Homo sapiens: one gene and its partners. The protein of the gene in region 1 interacts with the protein of each later gene in a biochemical or structural test. Each region holds a gene or a part of one and is shown on either strand. Other genes may lie near its edges. The genes, in order: DHX9, PRMT1 and PRPF40A.

Evidence for each region.
Region 2: the proteins of DHX9 (region 1) and PRMT1 form a complex in vitro, tested with the Homo sapiens proteins (one study listed by BioGRID).
Region 3: the proteins of DHX9 (region 1) and PRPF40A form a complex in vitro, tested with the Homo sapiens proteins (one study listed by BioGRID).

Annotation. Positions count from the first base shown.
Region 1 is NC_000001.11:182,842,211-182,845,961, reverse strand, and holds part of DHX9 (ATP-dependent RNA helicase A), read right to left. Parts: intron 3,418-3,751; 5' UTR 3,396-3,417; coding exon 3,285-3,395; intron 2,669-3,284; coding exon 2,528-2,668; intron 1-2,527. UniProt on the Homo sapiens protein: Multifunctional ATP-dependent nucleic acid helicase that unwinds DNA and RNA in a 3' to 5' direction and that plays important roles in many processes, such as DNA replication, transcriptional activation, post-transcriptional RNA regulation, mRNA translation and RNA-mediated gene silencing.
Region 2 is NC_000019.10:49,680,120-49,683,870, reverse strand, and holds part of PRMT1 (protein arginine N-methyltransferase 1), read right to left. Parts: intron 3,732-3,751; exon of another isoform or gene 3,636-3,731; coding exon of another isoform or gene 3,618-3,635; intron 3,385-3,617; coding exon 3,283-3,384; intron 1,962-3,282; coding exon 1,806-1,961; intron 1,755-1,805; exon of another isoform or gene 1,676-1,754; coding exon 1,612-1,675; intron 1-1,611. UniProt on the Homo sapiens protein: Arginine methyltransferase that methylates (mono and asymmetric dimethylation) the guanidino nitrogens of arginyl residues present in proteins such as ESR1, histone H2, H3 and H4, FMR1, ILF3, HNRNPA1, HNRNPD, NFATC2IP, SUPT5H, TAF15, EWS, HABP4, SERBP1, RBM15, FOXO1, CHTOP, MAP3K5/ASK1, MICU1 and NPRL2.
Region 3 is NC_000002.12:152,661,767-152,665,517, forward strand, and holds part of PRPF40A (pre-mRNA-processing factor 40 homolog A), read right to left. Parts: intron 2,487-3,751; coding exon 2,372-2,486; intron 2,214-2,371; coding exon of another isoform or gene 2,202-2,213; coding exon 2,110-2,201; intron 2,006-2,109; coding exon 1,889-2,005; intron 1,407-1,888; coding exon 1,269-1,406; intron 933-1,268; coding exon 837-932; intron 1-836.

The DNA of each region.
Region 1 (3,751 bases):
AAAAACCAAAGGACAGGGTTTGGAGGGCTTCCAAATGGCCGAACAGGTGGAGGTTCCTGAAGAATGGTGTTCGAGGCAGGGCATGGGAGCTCCCTGCTGCCTCCGCCATATCTTGCCCTACTTATTTCACCAACTGTATTTTGTAGTATTCTTTATAATAAACTGGTAAATGTAGGTTTTCCTGAGTTCTGTGAGCCACACTAGCAAATTAACTGACCCCAAAGAGGCAGTCATGAAAACCATAACTTGAAGCTAGTCAGTCAGAAGTTCTAGAGGCCCAGACTTGCAAGTGGTGTCTGAAGGGGCTGGGGAGTCTTGTGGGACTGAGTCCTCACCCTGTGGAGTCTGACGCTATCTCCAGGTAGTGTCAGAGTTGAACTGGAGGATACCCTGCTAGTGACTGCTGCAGAACTGATTGCTTGCTTGGGGTGTGTGGAAAAAGTCCCCCACCTCCACCCCACATTTAGTCACAGAAATCTTCTTTGTTGATTGTTGTGGTATGAGAGAAGAGGAAAATTGTTTTTTTTTTTTTCCACTTACATACCAAAAGAGGGAAAAAAATATCTGGTACCCCAGAATTCTACATCCAGTGAAAATATTCTTAAAGAAGGTAAAATAAAAATATTTTCAGAAAGAGAATAAGAGAATTTGTCACTAGCAGATCTACAAGACCATAGAGAAGAGCCTAAAAGATAAAGAATAGAGGGAGACTTCAAACATGTAAAAGACATTTGCAAAACTGTTTTCTCTACCAGAAGGCATTTTTAAGATGATCTTGCCCAATCCCTTCATTTTACAGATAGGCAAACCAATAAAATTAAAGACTGTAAGATACTATAATTACCCAGCAGTTAATCTACCGGAAAGTAAGTCTATCGAGTTCTTAGTCAAAGGAATGGAAGGAAATAAGATTTCTTTCATAACGAGTCAGAATACTGTCATAAACAAGGCAGAATACAAAAATTCAGTAACAGGACCCTGTTAAAACTGGCATAGACAGGCTGGGCACAGTGGCTCACACCTGTAATCCCAGCACTTTGGGAGGCTGAAGGGGGCGGATCACTTGAGGTCAGGAGTTCAAGACAAGCCTGGCCAACATGGTGAAAATCTGTCTCTACTAAAAACACAAAAATTAGCTGGGCGTGGGCCAGGCGCCGTAGCTCCCACCTGTAATCCCAGCACTTTGGGAGGCCGAGGTCAGGAGTTCGAGACCAGCCTGGCAAAAAATGGTAAAACCCCGTCTCTACTAAAAATACAAAATTTAGCTGGGCATGTTGGCAGGTGCCTGTAATCCCAGCTACTTAGGAGACTGAGGCAGGAGAACTGCTTGAACCCAGGAGGTGGAGGTTGCAGTGAGCACTGCACTCCACCCTAGGTAACAGAGCAAGACTCCGTCTTAAAAAACAAAACAAACAAACAAACAAAAAAAACCTTATTTCTTAAAAACTACTAGAGCCTAGTGTAGCGGCACACACCCACAGTCCCAGCTACTGGGGAAGAGCTGAAGTGGGAGGATGGCTTGAGGCCAAGAGTTTGATTGAGCCCCAAAAAGAAAAAAGGCAGAAAAACAAAACAAAAATCCCCCAAAACAACCTACTAGACAGAGGTATTTGTTGCATACTTACGTAATATAATTAAGATAATCATGACATAAAAAACACAAAAATACTCCATTGCATAAAATACTATTTTGTTATATAAGGACATGTCAGCCAGGTGCAGTGGCCCATGCCTGTGATCCCAGCACTTTGGAAGACGGAAGTGGGTGGATGGATCACTTGAGGTCAGGAGTTCAAGACCAGCCTGGCCAACATGGTGAAACCCTATCTCTACTAAAAACATAAAAAATAGCTGGGCATCATGGAGCGTGCCTGTAATCCCAGCTACTCGGAGGCTGAGGCAGGAGAATCGCTTGAACCCAGGAGGCGGAGGCTGCAGTGAGCCGAGATCACTCCAGCCTGGGCGACAGTGCAAGACTCTGCCTCAAAACACAAAGAACTTGCCAGAAGTGGTGGCATGCACCTGTAGTCCAGCTACTAAGGGGGTTAAGGATGAAGGACTGCTTGAGCCCAAGAGTTTGAGGCTGCAGTGAGCTATGGTTGTGTCACTGCATTCTAGCTTGGGTAACAGAGCAAGACCTCATCGCTTACGGGGCAGGGGGAGTGTCAATGGGAGCAAACATGTCTAAAATATTACTGATTTTTCTATTTTATTTAAAGTATTATCATTGGTAATGAATGGAACATAACAGACTCTGAAATTTCTGGTGTATAAATACATGAAATAAAGCCATAAGACACAAAGATTAATGGAATTTCTCAAGCCCCTAAGACAGGTATATAATAAGGATGCAATCCACATCTTCAGAAATTTTGTCCAGTGCTGAGACAAAACAAGATGCCAAATTTCATTACGAAACACGATATATCTGAAAACAGTGAAAAATTACTATCTTGAGTCTCTTACGCATATTGAGTTTGTACAACTTTACAACATACATCTCAAGTGCTTCGCCATAGGTACTTACCCCAAAAGCTGGAACTTCTTCACTCTTTATTTCATTTATTCGAACCAAATAGTTAACAAAGTCTCTGGCAGCATTGCTTTGTGCATCTTTTTTATTGGTGGAATTTCCCATGCCAGTGTAATTATAACCTTCCACCTGAACCTTTAAAAAAAAAAAAAAGTACTAAGAGACTGACCTGGGTAATTCTGAGATTTTAAAAAGTCGTAATTCAGTAGTCCATTAAGAGACAACAAACAGCTAACTTTAGGAAATATACTCTATAAATATAAATATAAAAATAAGAGAATGCATGAGCTACTGAAAAAGCTTAAATTGTGTTGTATCCAAAAATAATTTAAGTGGCTCAGATTTTTTTTTCTCATATAACAGAAGGTTCACATTAAAATCTGATTCTGTAATATCCATGAACAAGCTCTCCATTTGTATTTAAGCACTTTGATTTGAAGCAATCAAGAATTGCTCTGCTTTCTAAACGTGCTTATAAAACTGCAAACAGTTGATCCAACTTTTCCCATCCCCACTACTGGTACTGAGGAAGCTGAGGAAGATATAGGCTCTAATTAGAATAATTTACCTGTCAGATTGTTTTAAAAGTAATGCTGACTTGAAAATGATTTACAATAGCAGTCAAGTCACAATAAAGAACTGTCGTTTCCTAATGTGCAACACATTAACATCTCCAAACAGAAAACATTTTTCTTTTAACCCCAAAATGAACCTCATAAATCACATAAATGCAAACTGTATTCTTCAGTACCTCACACATGAATTTCTGCCTGTTTTTGTTCCCCACTGCTCTAATTTCATAGGATGGGGTCATCTTCCTTTTGCCACACCAGGCATACAGAAAATTTTTAACGTCACCCATGATTCAAGTGTCTTCTTCAGATCTAAGAAAACAAAAGTCAGTTAAAAACAGCATTTATAATAGCAAAAACTGGGAGGAACCAATTATCTAGATTACTGAATCTGGGTTAAACATAGGATATTCTATCATGTTGCTATTAAGACTCCCCATAAATTTTAACGACATAATTGGAACGTTTATATGTTGTAAGAAAAAGGATACAAAACGGTATGATTTGAACTTCATGAAAAGTACATATACATGATCAAGACTGGAAAGAAATACCCCCTAAAATGGTTATCTTTGGGGACTAAGAGTGATTTTTATCTTTTCTTACAAAGTATTTTATATAAGGCCCTATATTCTACAACGGGCAC
Region 2 (3,751 bases), on another chromosome or scaffold:
CCTCCCCCGGGGGCTAGAGCCTGGGGACCCCACTTCAGTTCAGAGAACTGCGTGAGCAGAAGCCATGAACCCTTCTAACAGTTTTAAAATTCATACATCGTTCTGGACATTTTTGAGGCAGGAGCAGAAATTTTATGTGGACTGGGTATCAGGTGATGTTACTTTTTTTTTTTTTTTTTTTTTGAGACGGAGTCTTGCTCTGTCACCCAGGCTGGAGTGCAGTGGCGTGATCTCAGCTCACTGCAACCTCCGCCTCCCGGGTTCACGCCATTCTCCTGCTTCAGCCTCCCGAGTAGCTGGGACTACAGGTGCCAGCCACCAAGTCCGGCTAATTTTTTGTATTTTTAGTAGAGACAGGGTGTCACCGTGTTGGCCAGGATGGTCTTGATCTCCTGACCTCACGATCCGCCCGCCTCGGCCTCCCAAAATGTTGGGATTACAGGCGTGAGCCACTGTGCCCGGCCGCGATTTTGTTTTTAACTGGGTGGTTTTGATATAATAAGTAACAGCATGATCACATTCTCAAAACAGCCTTTATCTATTAGATAAGACACAAGCAGACGCATTTACCGGGAAAATTACATCACAGTGGGAATTTGCTTCAAATGGACTCGTGCGTTCATTATAATAATCTCTTTTTAAAAATCACTTCAGGATGGCACGGTGGCTCACGCCTGTAATCTCAGCACTTTGGGAGGCCAAAGTGGATGGATCACCTGAGGTCAGGAGTTCAAGACCAGCCTGGCCAACATGGTGAAACCATGTCTCAACTAAAAAAATACAAAAAAAAAAAAAGTTCACACCTGTAATCCCAGCACTTTGGGAGGCCAAGGCAAGCAGGCAGATCACGAGGTCAGGAGATCGAGACCATCCTGGCTAACACGGTGAAACCCCGTCTCTACTAAAAAAACAAAAAAATTAGCCGGGCGTGGTGGCTGGCGCCTGTAATCCCAGCTAATTGGGAGGCTGAGGCAGGAGAATCACTTGAACCCAGGAGGCGGAGCTTGCAGTGAGCTGAGATCGTGCCACTGCCCTCCAGCCTGGCAAAAGAGTGAGACTCCATCTCAAAAAAAAAAAAAAAAAAAAAAAAATGCTGGGGATGTACCTATGATGGTGGTCATGCAAAAGAGCGGATGCCGCAACATCCTGGAAAGTGTTAAACGACATGACAAGCAGGTGTAAGAAGCCAAGGGCAAGAGGCTGGTATGAAATGCTACTGGCGTGAAAATTATGCACGAGAATGTAAATGCATTTACGTATGTATGTGTTTGTAGGTCCAGACTTCTCTGGAAGTTAGTGTTGGTTAAACTCAGAGGAGGGCAGCTGGGAAACAGGGAAGGCTTCTCACTGTGGGCCTTCCGTGGCCAACCACGTGACTCTATTACTCATTCAAGAAACTAGAGAGTGCTTCTTGCCCTAATTTTAAGACTGCGGTGCTAAGCCTGTGATTTTGACACTCAGATTCTCAGGCGGCCGGCAGCCCAAAAGACCATGGGTTGGGAGCTGCTGAATCTGTGGTCATCTGTAGACCCCACTGCTCTTCAGAGGGCCCTGGGGAAGCAGGGCATCACCCCCTCCACTCCCACAAACCCATCCTCTTTCTGGGCTCACCGTGGTCTAACTTGTTGGCTTTGACGATCTTCACCGCATAATCAGAGATACTGGAACACTCGATCTGAGGGCCCAGGAAGAAGGGAGGGTGAGACCCATCCCCTGCCCCCATCACCTCCATCCAATCCCTGAGCCCTGATGGGCTCCCCTCCATCCCTCAGGCCCGGCCCCGCCTGGCCACCCTGGAGACTCACCCCGATGACCTTGCGGGCCCCGGCCTTGGCAGCAAACATGCAGAGGATGCCGGTGCCCGAGCCGACGTCCAGCACCACCTTGTCCTTGAAGAGGTGCCGGTTATGAAACATGGAGTTGCGGTAAGTGAGGGTGCGCACCTCGTCCTTCAGCATCTCCTAGGGCAAGAATGGCACAGAGACGCCGTGAGGGGCCCCATATCCCCAGCTGGAGAACAGCGTGTCCTGAGAGCTCGGAGGGCCAGAGCTCGGCCCTCTCGCTTTCTTCCATGCACCTCAGTTTCCCTTTTATATTTATTCATTTATTTATTTTTATTTTATTTTATTTTTTGAGATGGAATCTCACTCTGTTGCCCAGGCTGGAGTGCAATGGTGCAATCTCAGCTCACTGCAACCTCCGCCTCCTGGGTTCAAGTGATTCTCCTGCCTCAGCCTCCCAAGTAGCTGAGATTATAGGTGCACACCACCATGCCCGGCTAATTTTTGTATTTTTCATACAGATGGGGTTTCACCATATTGCCCAGGTTGGTCTTCAACTCCTGACCTCAGGTGATCCACCCACCTCAGCCCCCTAAAGTGCTGGGATTACAGGCGTGAACCACTGCGCCCAGCCAGTTTCCCTTTTTAAAAAATCAGATTAGATGGTCTAAACTCCAATCTTGGCCGGACTTCACCACTGCTACCTAAGAACCAGTGAACCCTGGCTTTTAAAAGTCCTCAGGCTGGGAGCGGTGGCTCACGCCTGTAATCCCAGCACCTCAGGAGGCCAAAGCCGGAGGATCACTTGATCCCAAGAGTTTGAGACCAGCCTGGGCAACAAGGCAAGATTATCTCTACAGAAAAATAAGAACATCAGCTGGGCGTGGTGGCGCGCGCCTGTGGTCCCAGCTACTCCGAAAGTGGAAGTGGGGGGATCACCTGAGCCGGGGAGGTCGAGGCTGCAGTGAGCCATGATTGCACCAATGCACTCTAGCCTGGGCGACAGAGCGAGACCGTCTCTAAAAATAAAAAATGGCAATTTTATGCATATTTTGCCACAATTTTATGAAAAAGGCCTCAGGGGGAAAAGAAAATTCCTTAGAATGCCACCCCAGCTTCGTTCTGGGATTTCAGTGTCTTCAGTCAGATCTGAAGTGTGCAGAAGCTGTTAGGGCGGGAGCAGCCGGGGCGCAGTCCCACCGCCGGTCACTAGAGGGCGGCAGAGACCAGTGGGCCCTGCCCGACCTCTGGCTAAGGCCCCAGGCACGCATGCGCTCTCCCACCCCAGCCTTCGGCGCGAGGCCCCTGCAGAGATTCAGGCTAACCTCGGTCTCCAAGGCAACGGCTTGGCGAGGCGACCCTAGGAAGTGCGCAGCAGAGGGGCAGGGGGGCGGCCTGCGGCCAGGGGAAGCAGTGCGCATGCGTGGGAAAACAGGTTCCACCCCTTCCCCAACATTTAAGCCCCCCTAAGATTGGGGCCTTGGGGACTGTCCCCACTGACCTCGTGGATGCCAAAGTGTGCGTAGGAGTCAAAGTAGTAATCTTTGGATGTCATGTCCTCAGCGTTGGGCTTCTCACTGCTTTCCGCCTGGCCACAGGACACCTGGGAGGGGGCCGATGGGATCATGGGTCAGATCTGGGGGCTCCCCACAGCCTCTTAAACCTCCAGCGCCCTACTTTTCCCTGAAGAGTAGTATAGAACCCCCAAAATCATACCATGACAACCCTACAGCCCCCGCCTGCCATCTTGCCCCCCCAGGAACCCCAAAACCTAACAACCCCATTTTCCACTTCCAGGACCCCCCCAGAGCACCATCCAGGGGAGCACCCCGATACCTCAGCCACGCCTACCATCTCTCCAGTCTCTCTGACCCCGTCTCTAGCTCAGCCCACAGCTGGGGAGGGGAGGGGAAGGAAAATGGGGGCAGACACAGGGAAGGGCAAAGGGGGGTTGGAGGTGGAGTTAAGGA
Region 3 (3,751 bases), on another chromosome or scaffold:
TATTCAATAATTATTGGTCAATTCAGCATACTTACAAGGGCCTAACTGAAACTGTCATCAAAATACTTTTTTTTTTTTTTTTTTTTTGGGGAAGGAGTCCCGCTCTGTTGCCCAGGCTGGAGTGCAGTGGCATGATCTTGGCTCACTGCAACCTCCGCCTCCTGGGTTCAAGCAATTCTCTTGCCTCAGCCTCCTGAGTGGCTGGGATTACAGGTGCCCGCCACCACTCCCTGATAATTTTTTTGTATTTTTAGTAGAGACAGGATTTCGCCATGTTGGCCAGGCTGGTTTCAAACTCCTGACCTCAGGTGATCAGCACACACCTTGGCCTCCCAAAGTGCTTGTTTTACAGGCGTGAGCCACCGTGCCCAGTGAACCTTACCTATTAAAGTGACCTGAGATGTTATTGTTTCATTGCTTATTTTAACAAAAACTTACCATTTATTCCATTACTTTCCAGAAACTTTCTTTTCTACACAGCTAATGTGGTATAATACCTCAAATGTGCCTAAAAGCTGTCTTCTATCTGCTTTACAAGAAAAATTTCAAGTTTTCTTTATTAGTCAATCAATCCATGTGGCTGCCAAACTGCTCAATTTCTAAAACTTTCTAAAAATACAAAACAGTCTTCACATACAAATCTTTATATTCCCATGGAAACTTAATAGTTTCTTTTACTTAAAAGCAGTTTTTATAGGAAAAAAACCATTCTCTAACCATCCAGGTAAGTACATTTGTATAAAAGCAGTGAATATTAAGCAACATACTTTCATCATTCTAAGTTCTTCAATTTGTTTATATTTTATATATTTTGTATATGAGAATTCTAAAATTACCTCAAGCACATGCATAAAATCTTTAAATATTCGTTTTCTTTCAGATTCTAGAGTTATGTCCTCAAATGCTGGCTCTTTTACAAATCTCTCACGGATCTGAAAAATTCAGATACAAAATAAATATATGAATACCAAGAAAAGTACAACGATACATCTAAAATAAATCATAACAGCAAGTGAAAACTGTGATGAATCAGTCCCCTTAAAGTCCATTATTTCCTCCCTTCAAAAGTCCAAACCATTCTTTACAAATATTCCTAAACAGAGTCAACAGCTGATTTAATGCTTTTATTATATTCTAAATATATTTAATATATTCTACAAATAAATTTAGCTTATTTTTGTGGCTATAAAATGAAAAATAAAAATATTTTAAATTTCTCAACTGTAAAGAAAAGAATTCCATTAGAAAAAAATAACAAGTATACATACATCTTCCCAGACAGCATCCAATTCTATCGGAGGAGCAGCTTGTTTTAACATACTCTTAAATGCAGATTCTTTTCGTTTCATCTTCCGAGCCTCTTCTTTTTCTCTTTCACGTTCACGGGCTTCTGCCTTTTCTAGTAACTATTAAGAAAATCATATTTAATCAGTTATAATAGTATCATAACTATTAGCTGAAATAATTTATTGTTAATTTAGGAATCACGCATTGTTTAAAACGAGCTTGTCCAACCTGTGGCCCAGGACCGCTTTGAATGTGGCCCAACACAAATTTGTAAACTTTCTTAAAACACTATAAGGATTTTTTGCAATTTTTTTTTTAAGCTCATCAGCTATCGTTAGTGTACTTTATGTGTGGCCCAAGGCCTGATTTATAATGGCCATTTTATGTATAATACCAGTTAATTTGAGCAAAGGAAGTTTAATATCAATCCATCATCTAAATAAAGTTTTTTGTTTTACCTTACCTGAAAGACTGGCTACCACTCTGTAAAATTCTATTCATATTCCCTTATTCCAACACTCTGCAACTTAGCTGCTTTTATCTGAATAAATTAAAAACTATACTACTAAACTAGTTACTTACAACAGAAAACATAACTTACACTATTGAAAGCCAATTTGATATTTCCAGCATCTAATGTAGTTGATCTTTTAGTTGAACTGATTATCGCCACAAAATCTTCAAAAGTAGTGTTTACTTCAACTACAAATCCTTTATCCTAAAAAAAAGAAATCTTAACATTAATAATGCATAAATCAAAGGAATACAGTACTAACTTTTAAGATATACTATTGGTTAAAAGGTAAGAATAAATATATTTACCTTTAGAATGTCTTTTATTATCTTCTTCTCGTCATGATAACGTGCTTTAAGATCCTCAACATAAAACTTGAAAAGATCAAGTGCAGTTGATCCTAATGAAAAAACTAAAGAAGTCAAAAGCTAGCTCTAACCAAAGAGCTGCAATTACTTTGTTGTTTAAAAAACAAAAATAAAGCACCCTTTCCCCCAACACAATCACCTTTGCATTTGGCCCATTTCAACTACTACCATAACGGTAAATTAGGAAAGAAAATAATCTTACCAGGCTGACCAAGCATATTAGTGAATCTAATATCAGAACTAATAGTTGGATACAATTCCATCCAAGATGACATAGAATGCAGTTGTCCATGTTCATGTAATTCATCTAAAAATATCTAGGGAGAAAAATTATATTTGGAAAGTCATCTCGAGTACATGAGAAATAAGCGTCTAACATGAAAACACACAAAAACTTTGACATAGTTAAAACTCTTCTACCAATGTTATCCCAAACCTGTTTGGGCACAAAGAATATTTGCTATTTGGGCAAAGTAACAACTGCCTCTAGGCAAAAAAATATTTTGTCCTTTAGAGAAAATAACTTTTGAAACTGCACATTATCTTCCTAAGGTTCTATTTCCTACCCTTTAAGATAGAACCTAATTTTTAGCTTTAAAAAAAAAAAGGTAAAAGTTAACTTAAATTACTGGATATCTACCTCAAATGATGAGGCTAAAGAATGTATATGCATGTTTCCTTAAATATATACTTTCTGTCTTTAAAAATAGTGCCTAATGTGTTCTAGGTATTTTTATTTACTTTTAAAAAACAAGGGGCCTTAAGAGGAGGATGTATAATTTTCCCAAAGTAGTTTGGAGACCTAGGATTCAAACCCATATCTAGTTTCAATTTCCACACTTCCTGCTTCCAACCCAATCCTCAGGGAGTTTAATCCTATACACCAGGGGATCCCAACCCCCAGCCACGGAACCGGAACCAAGCCACACAGCAAGAAGTGAGTGGTGGAACAAGCATTACCGCCCCAGCTCCACCTCCTGTCAGATCAGTGGCGGCATCAGATTCTCATAGGACTGCAAACCGTATTGTGAACTGAGCATGCCAGGAATCTAGGTTGTGTGGTCCTTATGAGAATCTAATGCCTGATGATACCAACTCCCCACCCCACCCCACCAAGAAAAACTGTCTTCCACTAAACCGGTCCCTGGTGCCAAAAAGGTTGGGGACCGCTGCTATACACAAATGTGCCTAAAAGAAACTGTAACCCTATATTCTGTTCCCACAATTCCTATACCTGCACTGTTCAATAAGGTAGCCACTGACCAAACGTAGCTTCTCGGTACATGAAATGTAGCTAGTCTGAGTTGTGATGTGCTGTTAAGTACAAAATACACAATGATCTTGAAGATTTAATACCACAAATATTAGCAATTTTTAAAAATATTGATGTGTTAAAATAATATCTGGTTATATTGGGTTAAATTACTAAAATAAATAGGAAATTAAAATCGCATTTGTGGCATTCACATTTTTATTGGATAGAGCTGTCCCAAAGTAACATCAGGCACTTACAACTGCACTCACTCCTCTTCAAACAAGACTAAATATGTCCATACTCCCTTACAACTCGGAAATTCTTTTC